Linked DNA regions of Homo sapiens. The gene in region 3 interacts genetically with the main gene of each other region. Each region holds a gene or a part of one and is shown on either strand. Other genes may lie near its edges. The genes, in order: HAPSTR1, GEMIN5, SETD1B and RTF1.

Evidence for each region.
Region 1: changes in SETD1B (region 3) and HAPSTR1 together harm fitness more than expected from each alone (negative genetic interaction), as found in Homo sapiens cells (one large-scale study listed by BioGRID).
Region 2: changes in SETD1B (region 3) and GEMIN5 together harm fitness more than expected from each alone (negative genetic interaction), as found in Homo sapiens cells (one large-scale study listed by BioGRID).
Region 4: changes in SETD1B (region 3) and RTF1 together harm fitness more than expected from each alone (negative genetic interaction), as found in Homo sapiens cells (one large-scale study listed by BioGRID).

Annotation. Positions count from the first base shown.
Region 1 is NC_000016.10:9,114,376-9,119,493, forward strand, and holds part of HAPSTR1 (HUWE1-associated protein modifying stress responses 1), read left to right. Parts: intron 1-2,292; coding exon 2,293-2,537; 3' UTR 2,538-5,118. UniProt on the Homo sapiens protein: Acts as a central player within a network of stress response pathways promoting cellular adaptability. The E3 ligase HUWE1 assists HAPSTR1 in controlling stress signaling and in turn, HUWE1 feeds back to promote the degradation of HAPSTR1.
Region 2 is NC_000005.10:154,899,430-154,904,801, reverse strand, and holds part of GEMIN5 (gem-associated protein 5), read left to right. Parts: intron 1-172; coding exon 173-295; intron 296-1,626; coding exon 1,627-1,722; intron 1,723-2,125; coding exon 2,126-2,263; intron 2,264-3,315; coding exon 3,316-3,463; intron 3,464-5,372. UniProt on the Homo sapiens protein: The SMN complex catalyzes the assembly of small nuclear ribonucleoproteins (snRNPs), the building blocks of the spliceosome, and thereby plays an important role in the splicing of cellular pre-mRNAs.
Region 3 is NC_000012.12:121,830,583-121,835,028, forward strand, and holds the end of SETD1B (histone-lysine N-methyltransferase SETD1B), read left to right. Parts: 3' UTR 1-2,074; downstream 2,075-4,446. UniProt on the Homo sapiens protein: Histone methyltransferase that catalyzes methyl group transfer from S-adenosyl-L-methionine to the epsilon-amino group of 'Lys-4' of histone H3 (H3K4) via a non-processive mechanism.
Region 4 is NC_000015.10:41,464,893-41,470,264, forward strand, and holds part of RTF1 (RNA polymerase-associated protein RTF1 homolog), read left to right. Parts: intron 1-1,248; coding exon 1,249-1,360; intron 1,361-5,364; coding exon 5,365-5,372. UniProt on the Homo sapiens protein: Component of the PAF1 complex (PAF1C) which has multiple functions during transcription by RNA polymerase II and is implicated in regulation of development and maintenance of embryonic stem cell pluripotency.

The DNA.
Region 1 (5,118 bases), on a different chromosome or scaffold from region 3:
GAGGGGGAAAGAGGAGCCAGCAGGAAACTAAAATGGAGAGGTAGGAGAACCAGGGAAGGAGCCTCATAAGGGAGGTGCTGGGGAACAGGTGGGCTCACTCAGGGAGTGAATGTTGGGAGAGACAGACATTTGCAAATGTTGGAAGAGACAGATAGTTGCAGGCCTCACTATTTCAGAGAGCTGCAAATTGCATGATGTTGGTAGTCGGGATACGGTCTAAGGGTGAAGTGAAGAGAGCAGGAAGGGAAGAGAGAGAAACTGTTCAAAGAGATGAGGCCTAAGAGGCAGGCTGGCCCTAGGACCAACCTGAAGCCACCTTTTTGCTAAAATACTCTAGGCTTGGAAGAGGATCAGAATAACTGAATAGGAATATAGATTACACTTGGGTGGGAGTGCCAGCTCTTGTTTACTACCTGTTGACCTTGGATGAATTAACTTTTAAACTTGGGTTTTCACCTGCAGAATGGAGATATTATAGGTGTCATAGGAAGTAATTGACATAGTACCTGACACAGGAAGTATTCTCATGTTAATGCTTCTATTTTTTAATAGGTGCTAGCCTTGGAAAGGTTGAGAGGCTGAAGAGGGACAGTTTGATTTCCTCTGACCACCAGCAGGAGGGGAGGATGTGTCTTCTGCAGGGAGAGCAGCCAGGGGGATTGGTTGGATCAGTGCAGAAAGGAATGGGGGCACCTAGAGTGCGGAGTTGAGCACCTCAGAAGGGAGGTGTGGCCCTCAGGACATTGTCAGCATGTGCGATGATAGTGGAGGCCATGGATTTGAGAACATTTCAGAGAATATTTGATGGAGGGGAACGCCAAGGGGAATGTAATAGATTTGTGATAGGAGGCAGAGACTTTTCAACTTAAAATTCAAATTTAAACTACATTTTTAGGGAGTTCATGATTAGAAAGAATGGGCCCCTGTCAAATGAAACCTCTAAGCTTACTTGAAAATCTTATAAGTCCTATTCTTTGAAAATTAATTGATAGTCAAGCAATAACAGATCCCTAGGTGAGGAGAGAATAGTGGAAGGGGAAATTCCTAAGGCAGAAGATCACTGCCAGTGACGGTAGGTTTTTAAAAATGCAACACTGTGTTTGGTGTTTCCTGGCCTGACTCATACCTTTCACAGGTTTATCCTGAATGTTTAGGAGTGGAATGTAAGTTTGGCTCTTTAACTGTGTAAGAGTTTAAGGAAAGGAATAAGTATCCATGAGTGCTGGGTATATTCTGGATTCAGTAAAGTAACTCTTTTGTTTTTGAGACGGAGTTTCGCTCTTGTCACCCAGGATGGAGTGCAGTCTCGGTTCTTTGCAACCACCGCCTCCCGGGTTCAAGCGATTCTCCTCCTTAGCCTCCCGAGTAGCTGGGATTACAGGCGCCTGCCACCACGCCGGGCTAATTTTTGTATTTTTTAGTAGAGACGAGTTTTCACCATGTTGGCCAGGCTGGTCATGAACTCCTGACCTGAAGAGATCTGCCCGGCCTCCCAAAGTGCTGGGATTACAGGTGTGAGCCACTGCGCCTGGCCTTGGATTCAGTAACTCTTAATGTTGAAAACAAAGCAGCAGGATTCTTCACAACCCTCTCCCCTCCCCACTTCCATGAAGGATTAGAGAGGCTCATGATTGAGGCTGTCCTGAAGGATATCTACCAAATACATTCCAGACCTTAGGTGATCACATAGCCTGATTTGTCCAGGGTAGACTGACTTTGTACCTCATGTCCCAGTAGAAATTTTAACAGTGACTCTTTTCGGGCTCAACAGTAATCTGTTTTGGATGGCAAGTTATGTGATCACCTTATCTAGAGGGGATGTTGGAACAAGCCCACCTAGGCCTGGAAGTGATTTCTGGCTCTCCTGAATACATCACACACATACACACTCATCAGAGGGGTCTGTTGGAATGGTAACTTTGGGTAACCAAAAATGTCTTGTCTTTAAAGCAAATGTCTCCTGTCCTTATCTGTAAATTTTGTGCAGTACCTACCTCATAGATGGGAGAATTTAATGAGATATTTGTACACCTAGCACGGTGGTTGACACGTAGTAACTTTTAGTAATTGGTAGTTACCAATATTGTAGATATTGGTAGTATTACCAATAAAATATATGTCAAGGCCAGATGATATGTTTATCCAGAATAAAACTTAATTGCTTACTAGTAATCCCTTATAAAGGAAATAGGCAGACATGCTTTGACATTGTGACAACATGGAAAGTAAGTGGGTTGCTTTCAAAAGGGTTACATAATTGAGCAACTCTAAAACCTTTTTTCTTCTTCCTAGGTCTTAGTGGTGCAATGGCTAGTATAAGCGTGCGTTCGAGTACCCCAGGCTCTCCTACACATGTAAGCAGTGGATCGAATGCTAGTCGAAGGAGAAATGGACTCCATGATGTCGATTTGAACACTTTCATATCAGAAGAAATGGCACTCCACTTGGACAATGGTGGAACTAGAAAGCGTACCTCAGCCCAGTGTGGCGATGTCATTACAGACTCACCAACCCATAAACGCAACAGAATGATCTAAACTGCAAACATTTTCACACCCACCATGCTGCTTGAAAGCCACTTGATCCTCAACATATACTATAATTGCAAAGGAAACATGAGGCCATCTTCCCTTGTTCACTGTTTAAGACAAGTGAATTCTATAGTGGTTGCCATAAAAGGAAGTTCTAGGTATTTATAGTAGATGCCTCTTGTAATTATGGCTTTCTTAAAACTATAATCCTAGCAGAGGACATCAGATATTGTGTAGTCGTTAGCAAGATCATCATAGGCAAACATATATCCGTTCCAAGGCTAAAAGTGACCTTAACTGTATTTATTCTCAAAGGGAAAGGAAATATCAGATGTTTATTTGGTTATAGAATGCTTTTTTTTTTTTTGGGTCCATTTCCTGCTGTGTTGAGTATTTTGCTTCAACAGTATTGCCAGGTTCCTAAAATTGTCTAAAAACATGATTTGGCTTCCATTTTTGCAGCTGCACTGTACCATGCACCTGGTTTCTATATAGTAACAGTGTGCAATTCTAATTATTGGACTGTGCCCTGTTTTTAGTTTTCAAATCAATTTCTAATTCTGGTGATTGTGTGATGTAAAGAGGTGCTATGATGGTCATGCAATTAATACTAAATATTGAATCAATGCCCAGAGCTTTATTGGATTCACTTTGTGTGTGTTAGTGCTCTAAAGTAGCAGTATTATTATTAAACTGTCCCCAGAGTAACCCTGTAGGCCTAAAGTACTCAGTTTTAAGACAAACACTACTTCCCATGCGGGGTACTTTCCTTATGGTAAATGTAAACATGTAGACTGCATTCGAGGTGACCTAAAGTAGAGAGGTCATGAACTTTGAGAATGGGCTTCCTTTTTGGTTCAGTATTAGTGAGAGGGAGAGGGAGATGGATGGTGGGGTAGGTTTTCTAGTCTATCATTTTACATTTTTCATGGAGTCCCTGCTTAGTGCAGTTTCCATTGGAATGGGTGGAAGATGATAAAGCTCTCTTTTTTATCTACTAATAATGTGATTGCAACTTAAAATAGCAAAACCCAACTCTCCCTGTCCCTCCAATCCCTCTCCTAAAAAGTTCAGTTTGGAATCTCATTCTGGAAAAGATGGAATCGCATGGAGATTCTCTAGCTGTTAGGTAGACCTAAATAAAAAGTTCTCAATAGATTCCTCTTTTGAGTAAATATAAGACCTCTTGTAGCTACAATGTTTTAGAGCATGTTTCATCTTCATTTTTAATATCCTGAACTGAATGATAGTGTTTTTTTAGATGAAGAACTGATGTCAGCCTGCCAGGTACTGTAATTTATTCTATCATATTATTATATTATATATCAAGTAGGACAGTGAAAAATGTTTCCTTGCAAACTTGTAGTCCAGTATCAGTTACTTCCTATTTTTATCCTTAAAAGACCATTGCAAATCAGTGTAAGGGTTTTTCCAGTAATTACTCACAGCACTTTGTTAAAGTTTGCAATTTCTTCAGCCATTTAATAATATCTTTCTGTGAAGAAACTTTGCTGAGTTAACCATAAATGTTCATTCATTGACTGGGTGGGATGTGAATGGAATGTTAGAAATGTTGTGTGAATTGAAGTTCTGTATTCATTATAGATGTAGCCCTTATTTAAAAAAGTGAATTCCATACTAAAACTAGGAATGAAAGTGAGAGATTTCTAAACTTTTGCGAAAGTGGGTCATTTTTTGTTTGACTATAATAGCAGGAAGAATTATAGCAATCTGTCATTTTACCTGAAACAGACAAGCCTATGTATTATGAATACTTTCAAGCTTCCCTTTGGAATATACAAGACATGCGTTTGGAGTTACCTTTGTTTTTCTATCGTAAATTTAGATTCTGGAATTGGGGTTTGGTGGTGCAATGTGTTGCTCACAAGTGGCCAGAACTCCTATTCCTAAAAGGATTTTGAGATGGAGGAACACATATTTAATTCCCCTTTATGCCTTGGTTCTTGCTCCTCTTTCCACGTTGGATAACAATTTTTTGGTTGTTTTGTTTAAGTTGGTGCTCTGAAGCTTAATCTCAGTACCCTTTACTCTGAATTGTCAAATTTTGATAAAACGTGCCATTTTCTTTGGTAAGAGAAAGCAGGTCTTAATGTCTGCCAGAACACAATTTATATGCCTTATTGGCTTCATTAAACTTTTAGAAAACTTTAGCATTTGTTACTTTTTTCCATTGCGTTTACTTTCAAATGCACCTAATGAATTTGTCACCCAGTCGCAACTTTTCCCTTCTCTGTCCCATTGCTTTCTCCTTTCCCCGACGCACAGAATAAACATGAAGCTCAGCAGTAGAAGCGTAATGATTTCCCTCAGGAAAAACTTCTGACAGCTAGGTTTTTCAAGGGTTTCCCTGTGCTAGCTGAGATGCAAAACAAATCATGGAAGATTGCATACCTGTGTGGTATTTTAAAAACAAGTTGACTTTTTCAGTTTCTTGAACGGTTAAGGGTGGATTTAAAAACTAGACAGTTTAGTTTTGGGGAACAGAAGCTCTCTTCGTCTTAAGCCAGATTCTCTGATTCTTTTAGACGTCATAGCTCCTTAGTTCTGCTCCTGTCGCCCTAACTTG
Region 2 (5,372 bases), on a different chromosome or scaffold from region 3:
ATTGTGAACAATGCCCCCAGCAAATTTATTTTGAAAGCCTCTTTATTAGGAGGAGGAGCTTTCTCTGCCTGTGGTGTCGTCCTGCCAGTAGGTTACATTCACACAATAGGCATTCCGTTTTATGTTTCTGATCAGTTCTCCTTCAGATAGTATGTACTTTATTAAATTTCAGAAACCTTAATCAAGAAGAGAAAAGCTCGTTCCTTGCTTCCCCTGAGTACAAGCCTGGACCACAGATCCAAAGAGGAGCTTCATCAGGACTGTTTGGTACTAGCAACTGCAAAGCACTCCAGAGGTACAAAAATGTACTTCCTTGGCCCATCCATAGTCTTCCGGGACTGGTATATAAGGGATGTTTACTTATTTATTAAATGAATGCCCAAAGAAATGTCTAAATTGTTTTCTGTATTTTTATGTTCTCCAGCTCTCCCTTCCCTCCACATCCCTATACCCCTACACCTTGCTGCCAAACTCCCCATTGTGACCCACCGTCAGCACTGCCATGGCTTTGAAATGTAGCGCTCTGCTTTTATTCTAAATCTAATTCCTCCCAGCCATCTGTGTGCCAGAATTGGTATGTTGGCCTAAGTATCTCAGCATGAATAAACTCCTTCAACTCTTTTCCCCATTGAACAGTATCCTATGGAGAAAAAAATCTTTTTTTCTTATTGGAAATATGCTCATAATATGGCATTTTTTTAGAAAAAAATTTGATGGAAGCTTTTGCTTTGTAAGTTTTGTTTTGAAGGGTTGTTTTATTTTTGTTTTTCAAAGTCTTCATTTAATGTCCACTATTTTGATATTTTAATAACTTTATTTTTTAAATTTGAAGTTTACATGTGGAAAAGGGATGCACATAATAAATAAAATTGATGCTTAAGGGGCTGAAGCAGAAGGATCACTTGAGCTCACTTTAAGGCCAGCCTGGGCAACATAGTGAGACCCTCTCTCTATTTAAAAAAAAAAATTTTTTTTTAATTTTTTTTTCAAAGTAAATCTTCCTCCCAGTCCTCTGTTTCTCCTCCCCAGGAATGGAGGACCATCCTCCCTCCCGGTTACTGTCTCCCACTACCCTAACAAGGGTAGTCACTATCCTGGGCTTCCATTTGTTTCTTTCTTTTGAATTTTTGAACTGTTTTGTCTGTATTGCATAATCAAACTATTATCAGTTTCTTGTGTCTTGATGGAGATGTTTTATGCTTTTATTATATACATAGCCTTTTTGGAGCTTTGTGATGACTTCCTATAACTTACATAGTTAACCTAGTTTCACATTATTTTCCTTACTGGAAAATTACTCAGTTGACTTTTTTTTTGAAGCAAAGGATGAATATTGAATCCCCTTGTGGTAAGTCCCAGTGAATATTAAGGACTTTCTTTTGCTTATTAATATTGTTTTGCTTGTTTTTTACTGCACTTAAATATGTTCTGATTTGGGGTTCACTTTTAACATTTTAAGTGTTTTTGTGTTTTGCTCCCTTTGTAACTGCAGGAGTCTCTGTTAGAGCTCTGATTCTCTCAGTGTCTGAAGTGGGTGTTCCAAACATATATTCGGAAGTTATTGGAGAGAAAACTGTAATCAATGTAATGACTTCATCTGATTTTTTTGCCTTTTTAAATTAACAGAGCTGAATGAAGATGTGTCTGCTGATGTTGAGGAAAGATTTCATCTGGGGCTTTTCACAGACAGGGCTACCCTGTATAGAATGATTGATATTGAAGGTGAGACAAATCCAGTCAACATAATCTCATCCATCTTTATACTTTCCCAACATTTTGTGTGCACCTCTTTGATGGCTGTCATCCTGTGATATTATAATGGTTAGTTTTACGTGTCAGCTAACTAGGTTTTGAGCTCCCTGATTTACATATTGATACAACCCTTGCATCATCATAGGATCCTAAACATACAGCATTCACTCTGAGTACATGTGAAGGTGTGGGAGTGTACAGTGACCAAGTGGGCTTCAGATCTTACTGTAATCACTCTGGTAGGTGACACCCATCAGAGAATGACTGCATATTTTAGGAGCTCACTTTCTCTTCTATCTTGCCTTTCTTTTCCTACAAGTCAGTAACAGATGTTTCTGAAACACCTTCCAAACATTATCTCTCTTTCAAACAGGAAAAGGTCACTTAGAAAATGGCCACCCTGAGTTATTTCACCAGCTTATGCTTTGGAAAGGAGATCTCAAAGGTGTTCTCCAGACTGCAGCAGAAAGAGGGGAGCTGACAGACAACCTTGTGGCTATGGCACCAGCAGGTATGGTTTTTGTTTGTTTGTTCTTTTCAACAAAAGCTCTATCATCTCTAGGATACGTCCACTAAAGATGGCTCTTAGCACAGTCTTAAGCTTGAAATCACTTACAAATAGATACAAAGCAATAGACAGCAATAGACAAACTAATAAATCCAACCCAACCCCTTTGAAAAAAAGCAGGTCACTGACACTTTAATTGGCAAAAGCATAATTGGTGAGAACTTCTTGAAGGACAATTTGGCCATGTCTAGTAAATTTTAAAAGATATAATGGCACAAGTCTGTAGTCCCCAGCTGCTCAGGAGGCTGAGGCAGGAGGATTGCTTAAGGCTAGGCGTTCAGACCTATAGCGCTCTGTTAATTGTGCCTGTGAATAGCCAGTGTATTCTAGTCTGGGCAACATCATGAGACCTTGTCTCTTTAAAAAAAAAAAAGGCTGGGTGTGGTGATTCCTGATTCATGCCTGTAATACCAGCATTTCGGGAGGCCGAGGTGGGCAGGTCACTTGATCCCAGGAGTTTGAGACCAGCCTAGGCAACATGGCAAAAGCCCATCTCTACAAAAAAATTAAAAAATTATCTGGGCATGGTGACATGTACCTGTAGTCCCCGCTACTCGGGAGGCTGTGGTGGGAGGATCACCTGAGCCCGGGGAGGTTAAGGCTGCAGTGAGCCATTATTGTGCTACTGCGCTCCAGCCTGAGCCACAGAGTGAGACCCTGTCTCAAAAAACAATAAAAGGAAAGGGAAAAAAAAAAAGCACGTAGTCATGTTACCTTTGGCTCATCAGTTATGATTATAGGAATTTAACTGTGCTCACACATTCCTTTCTGTATCTTTTCAACTTTGTACTGTTTTGTTTGTGTTACATAATCAAACAATTGATGCTTCAGAATGTGTAGATGAAGCAGATGATCCATAATGGCAGCTGAATTGGTATCTAAATGTTCTGCTGAATGCATTGACGAAAACAAGGCTTTTTCAACCCAAATGTACTGGGTATTGTTTTTACTTTTTCTTCAACTGTTTTTTTAACCACCATCTTTTATTTTTTCAGCTGGCTACCATGTGTGGCTATGGGCTGTGGAAGCTTTTGCCAAACAGCTGTGTTTTCAGGATCAGTATGTCAAGGCTGCTTCTCACCTACTTTCCATCCACAAAGTGTATGAAGCGGTGGAGCTGCTCAAGTCAAACCATTTTTACAGGTCTGTGTGGTCCTAGAGTTGGGATAATACTTGGACATAATGTGAAAATAACCTAAACTTCTCTATTGTTAAAGTAACATAAATAGAAGAAACAGTCCTCCTGCTTCAGCCCCCTGAGTAACTGGGACTACTCAGGAGGTGCATGCCACCACATCCAACTAATTTTTTAGTTTTTTGTAGAGACGGAGTCTTGCTGTGTTGTCCAAGCTGATTGCCAACTCCTGGGCTCAAGCGATCCTCGTGCCTCAGCCTCCCAAAGTGCTGGGATTACAGGCATGAGCCACCATGCTTGGCCAAGATTTTCTTTTTGTTCTACCCTGCTTTGGTTTTGTTATCTTCCTTTAGAGAGTGTTAAACTTTGTTTTGGTAAGTAGTAAAGTTGTGTATCAGCTTGATCTTTTCATGGCTTGTTTTTAAACTTCGTTAGGGCAAGTTTATCATATTCTAGAATTACCTCCTACATTTTGATATCTTTCTTGAATGCCTTATGCATTCAACAAATCAAAACTCAGATGTCTCCAAGTCCTGAGTAAGCTCTGGGAATTGTTCAGCTTACAGTTACCTAGTCATTCTTTGTTTAGACTTAAGGAGTTTCCTTTACATACGTGGCTTTTAATTTAGCCAAAGACTCAATGGGATCTCCAGGCAGAGTTGTGGATGTCTTTCTCTGGACAGCTTCCTCCTTCCTAGTATCCTGCCCCTCAGATTTCCATTGTTTCCTCTTCTCAACTCAGAGACTGCTGAGGTTTTGCTCAGGTTTTCCTTAGGAAAATGGCTTTGGGCAGAAAGCCAGTGCCAAGATAGGGCTCCCATCATTTGTTTCTGTTCTCTTAGGGCTGACCATCCTATGCTGCCTGTTACCTGGTATCTAAAAACAGTTGTTTCAGCCATTTTGTCCAGTTTTTTAGTTTTATGGCAGAAAGGTAAGTCTGGTCCCAGTTACTCCATCATGGCTGGAAGTAGAAGTCCCAAAATACTTTCAAAATATTGCTCTCTCTAGATCACTTTAATCTAATAAAACACTTTTTTCCCAGCTACAACTTTATGTTGGCTACAACTCAGCAGTTGTATGTCATTTGAAAAATATTTGTTTACTGAGTTGTTCAGATCTTCCAAATGTTAACATATCTTATTATAAAATACCCAAAAATACCACATTCCTTACTATCACCATCAGTCTCATCAGAAAATTCTAACTTATGGGAAACTCAGGCACACAAGTGGTAGGTACAAGTTTTCTAAAATTCTAATTTTTGCTAGAAAACTCGCATTTTATCATTAGTAACAAATACTGTTGGTTGTTTTTAATGAAGTGATAGGCCTACTTTGTTCATTTTTGAGAAAAACATCTGCCAAATACCCAACACTGAATAACTGTTATTTATGTTAGTCATTTTTTTTTTTTTTAGAAGAAAGAAGGTTCTATGAAAAAGCAGCCAGTTTAGCTTGTAATTTGTTCATACAGGTGTTACCTAGAGACAACCATTCTACTTTGGAATGCAGCAGAGAACACAAAATGTTCTTCCCATTTGTCACACAGAATATTAAAGTGTTTTGGACTTGACGGATTTAGTAAAATTTGTAATTTTTACTGCTTCATTAAGGGCATTCTTCCTTTTTTTCCACTGTAAGAGCCACCGCCTTCCTTCTTAGATGCCAGGTTTCCCAATCACTGCTTTGGCACAATCAGTGCAAATGTCAACACATTTTTTTTTTTTTAATAAAAAAGCACATAACTGACTCTTAGCATTGTTACGAAAATAGTTTTAACCTCATGAACCCTCTGAAAGGTTCTTGAGGACCCCCTAGGAATCCACAGACCACAATTTAAGAACTGCTGATCTAAGTGAAGAAACGAATGCAGCATATGTTTCTAATTTGTCTATATAATGCAAGTGCAGTTTTTAAA
Region 3 (4,446 bases):
CTTCCTGTGAATGCTGCTACGTTGTTTTGTCTTCTCTATTTTTTTCCTCGTTGTGAGAAAAGACATTTAACCGTTGAAATGTGAAGGTGGAATCAGAGAGGGGCCCCGCGGGGGTCTGCAGAGGCCTCAGTGTGGCTGTGCGTGGCCCGTGTCCTGGAAGCCACCCGGACCTGGACGCAGGGCCAGGTGCTGTGGGAAGGATGGAGGCCCCCACGGCCTTGACCTCAGAACACTACGCCCTGAAAGCGCCCCTCACTGCCCGTGGGCACAGTGAGGAGACCCCACACCTTTCCCCACCCGAGCTGCAGCCTGTTCCTTCCCCAGAGGCCTGGGGCACCACTGACCCGGTGGACCCTGATGGAGCTAAGCTGTCCCAGGCAGGGGTCTCCGCTCTGGGCTTTCCCTGCCACCTCACACCCCAGCACCCCCTAAACCTTGGGTTCAATGTTTACTTTCTCATTCGGATGCCAGCAACGCGGGAGCCTCTCGGAGGCCCCAGTGCAGGTGAGGGGCGCTGAGAACGCGGGCAGCCACTCTCTTCTGCCCTTGCCTTCGCCCTGGGTGGGACAGGGCTCCCAAGGGCAGGCGGGTCCCCCAGTCCCGCCATTACGGGTTGTCAGACCGTCTGCGTGTGGCATTTTTTGGCTTATAAGCTTCACCCACTCACCCCCAACCCACACCCCACATCCCCCTGCCGGCAGCCCCTCAACCTAAGAAGGCCAGAGCATATTTATTTTCGGAGGGAGCAGATTACTTCTCCCAGAGAAAGGAAAATCTTGGAAAAGATTTAAAAACACAAATCTAAGCCTTGACGGTTTTTTTTTCCCTTTTGACCCCCTTCCCATCTCTTCAGAATTTATTCCCATGGCTTTTTTTTTTCTTGTGCGTGTATAAAATCAAAAGGAAGGGGAAAAAGGTTTTTGAAGTTCAGAACCAACTTCTGTATATAGAGGCTGCCGCAAAGGACTTTCTCTTGGGAACATTGTTTCTTGTAGAAACATGCGGGAAGACATTTTTTGCTCATTTCTTTGTACTTCCAAAAAAAAAGGAAAAAAAAGACAAAAGCAAGTCCCCCCGTACCCCAGAAAGCAGAGGAGGCGTGTAAATAATTTCTGGAAAGTGACTGTTGTGACCCGGAGTCCTCATCAAGATGAGCGCGCTCCATGAGGGAGCTGCTCCCACCCTGCGGACGCAGGCGGCCGGAGCCTCTGGTATCTCAGCTTGTGTCAAGCTTGTTATCATGTAAATTCTGTACAAAGAATTGTTATTTTTCTCTTTTTTGTTGTTGGTGGTTTTGTTGTGTGTTTTTTGTTGTTTTTTTTTTATTCCTTTCCCCCAGGCCCTCTCTATTTGAGACTGTGCCCGCCGGTTTCAAGATCAAGGAAATTGGTGGCAACAAGACACAGATGGGGTACCTGGGCACAGCGGCGAACTTCTCTTCCGTTTGCGGTTTTCTGCCTAATTGTGCAACTGAGGAAATAATTTATTTTTCACATGAGGAAATGCGTAGCTTGTAGAGACGGCTGATTCAAGTTACATGTACAGCCTCCAAAGGGCTGTCTCCATTCTGTCCCCTTCCCATAAAAGAAGTGGGGGTGTTCGAGAAGACCAGGGAAGGGACCCTTGCCTCACCCCTCCCCCTGGCCTCACCTTGCTCCCAGCCATCGTGCCCAGTGTTAACCTCGGCTGGCCTTCACTAAGGGGACTAGACCTCCCTCTCCCCAGGAGCCCCAGCCCCAGAGTGGTTTGCAATAATCAAGATATGTGTCGAGTCATTTTTCTTTCAACTCCCTCATTTTTCATTGAACAAATCTCTGCTTTTCAAGAGTTGGGGGTTTCTGCTATTTTTTGCTTTCTCTCCCTCCCCCTGCAAAGATGAGAACCAATGAGTTTTAGGGATGTTTGTGCGGGTAGACTCCATCATCCATATGTAACTTGTTTTGAAGAGAAGTGTTTCCGTTGTGTGTCTTGATGTAAATATTTGTTCATATTTTTGTGAATTCAATACTATGTACCATTGTATTATAGTAACTTTTATAAAGCAAACCATAAATATACTGACTTTTCTTACAGATACGCCGTCTCTCTTGCTCTCCTCTCTCCCTCTCCTCTTTATTCTTTCTTTCTGTTGGGAGCACATCCTGCTTCTGTGGAGGGTGGAGTGGTCCACTCAGACACTCAGATCAGCAGGGGTTTTTTTGTTTGTTTTTGAGACAGGGTCTCACTCTGTCACCTCAGGCTGGAGTGCAGTGGTGCAATCATGGCTCACTGCAGCCTTGACTTCCTGGGCTCAAGTGATCCTCCCACCTCAGCCTCCTGAGTAGCTGGGACTACAGGAGCACACCACCATGCCCAGCTAATTTTTAAGAAATTTTTCTGTAGAGACGGGGTCTCCCTATGTTGCCCAGGCTGGTTTCAAACTCCTGGGCTCAAGCAATCCTCCCACCTCAGCCTCCCAAAGTAGTGGGATTACAGATGTGAGCCACCGTGCCCAGCCTGAACTTGTAGGTGGGTTTTGTGAAATGGGCCAAATTATAGTCACCACTAGACCTTCCACAGCTTTTAAGTGTGATTTCTAGATTTTTTTCTTAAAACCTCAGGTTTCTGACTCATGAGGTCTGCAATGAAGGAAATAAGATCAGGTATCCTTTTACTATCACTAGAAGAACGTAGGTGGTTCCTCAGAAATGTTTAACACTTAAGGAGATGCCCCCCTGGTCTGCATTTGAGGGAGGAAAAAGGGCTGATAAAATAGTAGAAGTTGAGAAGAATTAAATCTATCCTGTATTCATGGCATTTCAGAGATGCTGTGCCCCAGTCAGTCTCAGCTCTGCTTGACCCAGTAGACGGGTGATAAAGGGCTTATAGTTGGCGTCCACGGTAAATGTCTCCAAGAAGACGTAAAACCTTAGCAAAAAGCAATATGCCTGAAAAGACGCTGTACGTCACTTCCTACTGGAGAAATGTGAATTATCCCAGGATGCCGTTTCCCCCTGTCAGGTTGGCAAATATTAAAAGGTGGAGGAAACCCAATTTGAGGGAGCAGGAGGCTGGGGTACTCTCGTGTGTCATTAGGGGAAGCCAAAAATCACTGCAACCTTTAGGAGGAAAAATACCTATTAGTAATCATTATTTAAAATGCACACGGCCGGCACGGTGGCTCACGCCTGTGATCCCAGCACTTTGGGAGGCCTAGGAGGGCAGATCACCTGAGGTCAGGAGTTCGAGCTAGCCTAGCCAACATGGTAAAACCCCATCTCTATTAAAAATACAAAAAAATTAGCCGAGTGTGGTGGTGCACGCCTGTAATCCCAGATACTTGGGAGGCTGAGGTGGGAGAATCGCTTGAACCCAGAAGGTGGAGGTTGCAGGGAGCCGAGATCATGCCACTGCACTCCAGCCTGGGCGACAGAGTGAGACCTCGTCTCAAAATAAAATGATCAAATGCACACAAAAGTCTTGGCTCCGTTGTTCCACTGTGAGGAATTGAGCCTGACAGATACAGTGGGCAACAATATGAAGAAGAGTGTTCTTCGCAGCCTCATTTCTGGTATCAACGAAACGAAGGGAGAGTAAATTGTCCGTTCACAGTGGGCTGCTTTTAGGAATTGTGCATCCAGACAGGTGGACACTCCCGTAAGTGGATTCATGGGAATAGAGGGCTGAGGTCCGGGCTGAGCCAGGAAAGAGAAGGAAGTGTCTGGCCATTAATTCAATCAACCAATATTTATTGAGCACCTTGTATGTGCCAGGTACTCTTCTAGGCTCTGGGGATAGGAATGAAGGAAACATACTGTTCTTGAGGGCGAGCCAGACAAATGTGAAAAGTAAGTGCAATAGTAAGGAGGAATAAAGCTAAGAGAAGGGGGTGTAGCTGAAGGAATATACAATTTTACCTTTATTATTTATTTTAGAGACAAGGTCTAGTTCTGTCACCCAGGCTGGAGTGCAGTGGCATGATCATAGCTCACTGCAGCCTCGATCTGCTGAGCTCAATGATCCCCCCACTTCAACCTCCTAAGCTGATCAGGGCCATAGGCACACTTTACCATACCAGCTAATTTTAAAAATTTCTTTTCTTTTTTTTTTTCTTGAGACAGAGTTTTGCTCTTGTTGCCCAGGCTAGAGTGCAATGGTACAATCTCGGCTCACTGCAACCTCCACCTGCCGAGTTCAAGCAATTCTCCTGCCTCAGCTTCCTGAGTAGGGATTACAGGGATTACTAGGATTACAGGCATGTGCCACCAAGCCCAGCTAATTTTGTATTTTTAGTAGAGATGGGATTTCTCCATGTTAAGCATGCTGGTCTCGAACTCCTGACCTCAGGGGATGTGCCCTCCTCGGCCTCCCAAAGTGCTGGGATTATAGGTGTAAGCCACCGCGCCAGGGCTTTTTCTTTCTTTCTTTTCTTTCTTTCTTTCTTTCTTTCTTTCTTTCTTTCTTTCT
Region 4 (5,372 bases), on a different chromosome or scaffold from region 3:
ATTCAGTGTTCCTCATTGTCCAAAGAATAAACCTGTTTTGAGTGTGTGTGTGTGTGTGTGTGTGTGTGTGTGTGTAAAAGGTGGATTTATATTAATCAGCCTAAGTTTATAAGACTTGTGACATGGTTTCATTAATCTCTGGACATATCACCATTAGCTGTGCTGTTAAATCCTTAGCACTTTTTCCTTTGCTTTCCTTTTTCCTTTTCTTTTTTCTTTCTTCTTTCTTTTTCCCTTTTCTTCCCCTCCCTTCCTCCTTCCCCCTTCCCTTCCTCCTTCCCTTCCTCTTCCCTTTCCCTGGTCTCATTATGTTGCCCGGGCTAGAATACAGTGGCTATTCACTGGCACAGTCATAACACACTGAAGCCTCAAACTCCTAGTCTCAAGCAGTCCTCCTGAGTTGCTGAGACTACAGGCATATGCTACCGTGCCCGGCTTTCACTGAAGTCTGCATTTAAAAAGCAGCCCTCAACTGCAGTGACTCACATGTGTAATCCCAGCACTTTGAGAGGCCGAGGCAGACAGATCACTCAAGGCCAGGAGTTTGAGACCAGCCTGGCCAACGTGGCGAAATCCTGTCTCTACTAAAAATACAAAAATTAGCCTGGCGTGGTGGCTTATGCCTTTAATCCCAGCTACTCGGGGGGCTGAGGCACAAGAATTGCTTGAACCTCAGAAGCGGAGGTTGCAGTGAGCTGAGATCATGCCATGGCCCTCCAGCCTGGGCAGAAGAGCGAGGCTCTGTTTTAAAAAAAAAAAGCAGCCCACTAGTGAGTGACCATCCCTTAAGGAAAAGTTGGTAAACAACCTGTCCTAGGTAGCCAGATGCTTATGATGTTTACTTAGATGTATATCATCCTTTACTTGGTATAAATATAGCTGGGAAAATAATCTCTGTATTTATCATAAATGAGACTCCATCTCAGAAAAACAACAAAAAAAGATAATGTGGGGCTGAGTGTAGTGGCTTATGCCTGTAATCCCAACATTAGCTGTGTTGTAGTGTGTTCTTCCAGAAAGAGTTTATTCGGATAATTCTTGAACTTGGAATAGGCATTTTAGACAGGGCTTACTTTACTGCGCTATCCTCTTTGTCCACAAGAGGATGCTCTCTCCCCTTACATAAAAGCTCTAAGTTTTTGCAGCCCATATAGATTGATGTTGGAGGACTAAATGCATTAAGTAGGTTTAGAGAATCTTATCAGCTGTTGGTAAAAAGGGCCATTCTATATATCCTTCCCTTCCTAGGTAACATCCCACAACAAGGAACGGCGTTCCAAGCGGGATGAGAAACTAGACAAGAAATCTCAAGCCATGGAGGAGCTAAAAGCAGAGCGAGAAAAACGAAAGAACAGAACAGGTAAGCGAGGGAAATATAATGGCTACTTGTGTCTTTATATGATTTGACTTCCTGGTGTCCATTTTCATTTTGCCCTCTTGTTATATCTTTCTCATATAAAATTCCAGCACATACCCAGAATAGTATAAACATCCACAAACCCATCATCCAGCCACAGCAGTCAGCTCTTGGCCAGTCTTGTTAAATCTATAATCCTTTCATCAGATTATTTTAAAGCAAATACCAGCATTATTATATTTTAACCATAAATATTTCAGTATGTTCCTCTAAAAGATAAGTACTTTTGTTTTAAACCTAACTATAATACCATTATTACACCTAGAAATAACAATGAACTCTTTGTCAAATATCTAGTCAGTGTTCAAATTTTTCTATTTGTTTTGTAATTTAAAAAACAAGATTTTAAAAACATTTCTATTTGTTTTGTAATTTAAAAAACAAGACCACTTGAATCAGGATCTTAAAGTCCATACATTGTGATCTGTTAATACGTCCCTTAAGGCATTTAATCTGTATGTTTTCTTCCCCATCTCTTTGCCCTGCCTTGCAGCGTTATTTGCTGAAGGAACTGGGTCATTTGTCTTCTGGTTTCTCACATTGCTGACTACATCTCGTTTTTGTTGTTGAATGTGTTTCTGGTCCCTTGGGTTTCCTGTAAATGGTTAGTTAGAGCTACAGAATTGGTCAGATTTGGGTTTGTTCTGTTGTTGTCATTGTTGCTTGTTCTTGGGGAAGGCTGATTTTTAGGTAGTGGTATGTATTTCCATCAGGAGACACATGATATCTGACTGTCTCTCAGTTTGTGATGTTAACAATCCTGTCAGTTAGCTCTTACCACAATAATGTGAAGTAACAAACTAACCCCTGTTCTGCTCATGCATCTGAAGTTCAACTGCAATTCACCCTCCTGATGGCATGAGTTCAGCTGGAATTATCTCCAAGCTATAGGTGGTAGCCAGGTCTGTTCTACCTCTCTCTTCCTCCCTGGGCCAGTAAACCCCGAGCACTTTTATATGGTGATGACAGAAGTATAAAAGGGGCAAGCAAAGACACACATGCCTCTTAGGGCCTAGACTTGGAATTGGCATAGTGTCACTATGGGGCCGGGAAGAATGACTAAGGCATATAGCAAAGGACATGGGTATAGAGATGGGTGAAGAATTAGAAAGGATACTGTGGGGGCCGGTCGTGGTGCCTCACAATTGTAATCCTAGCACTTTGGGAGGCCAAGGTGGGCGGATCACCTGAGGTCAGGAGCTTGAGACCAGCCTGGCAAACATGGTGAAACCCCATCTCTACAAAAAATACAAAAATTAGCTGGCCATGGTTGTGCATGCCTGTAATCCCAGCTCCTCAGGAGGCTGAGGCAGGAGAATCCCTTGAACCCGGGAGACGGAGGTTGCAGTGAGCTGAGATTCCGCCACTGCGCTCCAGCCTGGACAACAGAGTGAGACTCAATCTTAAAAAAAAAACAACAAAAGATAATGTGGGGCTGAGTGTAGTGGCTCACGCTTGTAATCCCAGCACTTCGGGAGGCTGAGGCTGGAGGATTGCTTGAGGCCAGGAGTTCAAGACCGGCCTGGCCAACATGGTGCAAGCCCATCTCTACTAAAAATAATAAAATTAGCCAGGCCAGGCACGGTGGCTCACACCTGTAATCCCAGCACTTTGTGAGGTCAGAGCAGGCAGATCACGTGAGGTCTGGAGTTGGAGACCAGCCTGGCCAACAGAGTGAAATCCCGTCTCTACTAAAAGTACAAAAATTAGTCAGGCGTGGTAGCACATGCCTGTAATCCCAGCTACTTGTGGGGCTGAGGCACTGAAAATCACTTGAACCCGGGAGGTGGAGGTTGCAGTGAGCCAAGATCCTACCATTGCACTCCAGCCTGGGCAACAAGAGTGAGACTCTGTCTCAAAAAAAAAGAAAAAGAAATAATAACGTGTTCTGTCCTAGTAGCCACTGATGGTCATTACCTAGATAATTTAATTCATTAGGAGTTGCAAAATGGTGATATTTCGAATCTGTCATTCTTTCCTCATTCATTATCTAGCCTGCTTCTATAAAGAGAAACCTTTTTTTTTTGAGACGGAGTCTCGCTCTGTCGCCCAGGTTGGAGTGCAGTGGCGCGATCTCGGCTCACTGCAAGCTCCGCCTCCTGGGTTCACACCATTCTCCTGCCTCAGCCTCCTGAGTAGCTGGGACTACAGGCACCTGCCACCACGCCCAGCTAATTTTTTGTATTTTTAGTAGAGAAGGGGTTTCACCATGTTAGCCAGGATGGTCTTGATCTCCTGACCTTGTGATCCGCCCGCCTCGGCCTCCCAAAGTGCTGGGATTACAGGTGTGAGCCACCGCACCCGGCCTAAAGAGAAACTTCTAATCAGCTATTTAGTTACCCCCCAGGCACATTTTGAACAGGAAAGGCAAGATAAATGCTTGATTAATTTTCCTTTCGTTTACCAGTTTTTGAAAGAATGAGATAGTTCCTGGCAAGGTACAGTGGCTCACATGTGTAATTCAAGACCAGCCTGGGCAACATAGTGAGACCCTGTTTCTGCAATATTTTAAAGAGAGAGAGAGAGATAGTTTTTAGCAACTTCCAAAGATGACTGATGGGTTTTATTTATTTTGAATATCCTTGTGAACTCATCATTTTTAACGTGCTTTATGTGTTTTAATCCATTGCAGTTATTTTTCCTTCCTTCCATCCATCTTTTTCTCTCTCTCTTTTTTGAGACAGGATCTCTCTCTGTTACTCAGTCTGGAGTGCAGTGGCGCGATCTCGGCTCATTGCAACCTTCACCTCCCGGGTTCAAGCGATTCTCCCACCTCAGCCTCTTGAGTAGCTGAGACTACATGCGTGCACCACCACCTAATTTTGTTTTGTATTTTTAGTAGAGATGGGGTTTAGCCATGTTGGCCAGGGTGGTCTTGAACTCCTGACCTTAAGTGATCCGCCTTGCCTTGGCCTCCCAAAGTGCATGAGCCAACACTCCCAGCCTAAAATTTTTTTATATTATTCTTTTTTCTTTTTAAATCGTAAGTACACAGATTAACCTGCCATCTTAGATTAATGGTAGCATATTATACACAGTTTTCTCTCTCTTTTTTTTTTAGCCACCACTCCTGGTTTGTTTTTTGTATTTTTGGTAGAGATGCAGATTCACCATGTTGCCCAGGCTGGTCCCAAACCCCTGAGCTCAAGTGATCTACCCACCTCGACCTCCCAAAGTGCTGGGATTACAGGCATGAGTCACCATGCCTGGCCACGTTCCTTTTTTTTTTTTTGAGATGGAGTCTCGCTCTGTTGCCCAGGCTGGAGTGCAGTGGTATACAGTCTTGGCTCACTGCAACCTCCGCCTCCCGGGTTCAAGCGATTCTCCTGCCTCAGCCTCCCAAGTAGCTGGGATAACAGGTGCCGGCCACAATGCCTGGCTAATTTTTGTATTTTAGTAGAGACAGAGTTTCACCATGTTGACCAAGCTGGTCTCGAACTCCTGACCTCAAGTGATCCACCTGCCTCTGCCTCCCAAAGTGCTGAGATTACAGGCGTAAGCCACCGCACCCGTCCCCACGTTCCTTTTTTATAGCTGCATAGTAGTTCATTGGTAGATGTACCAGTGGTGATTTAGCCACTCTCCTATTTTAAATTTTCCTCAGAAGCTTCTGAAGTCATCATGAGTCTTTCCCCCTCTTTCCTCCCCATAGTCAAGTGTCTTGAGTGCCATAAAAGAGAACTGTCAGTAGTGTTGGTGACCCTTTCTGCCCACCTAGTATCAATCTTCCAGCCCTTTTTTCATCTGCTGGGGCCTGACATTTGGCACCTGAATAATTTTAACTCTGTGTTTTAACTCATTTCTGTATATACCCCAAGTTAGCACAATCCAGTCTAGAGAGGACGGAGCTGTGTATTTGAGTCCTCTTCCATTTCCAGTTCTTTTTCAAGGATGAATTCATTTTCTTGTTGAGAAAACCTAGGTAAACATCTCTTCTTTCTTTCTAGCTGAGCTC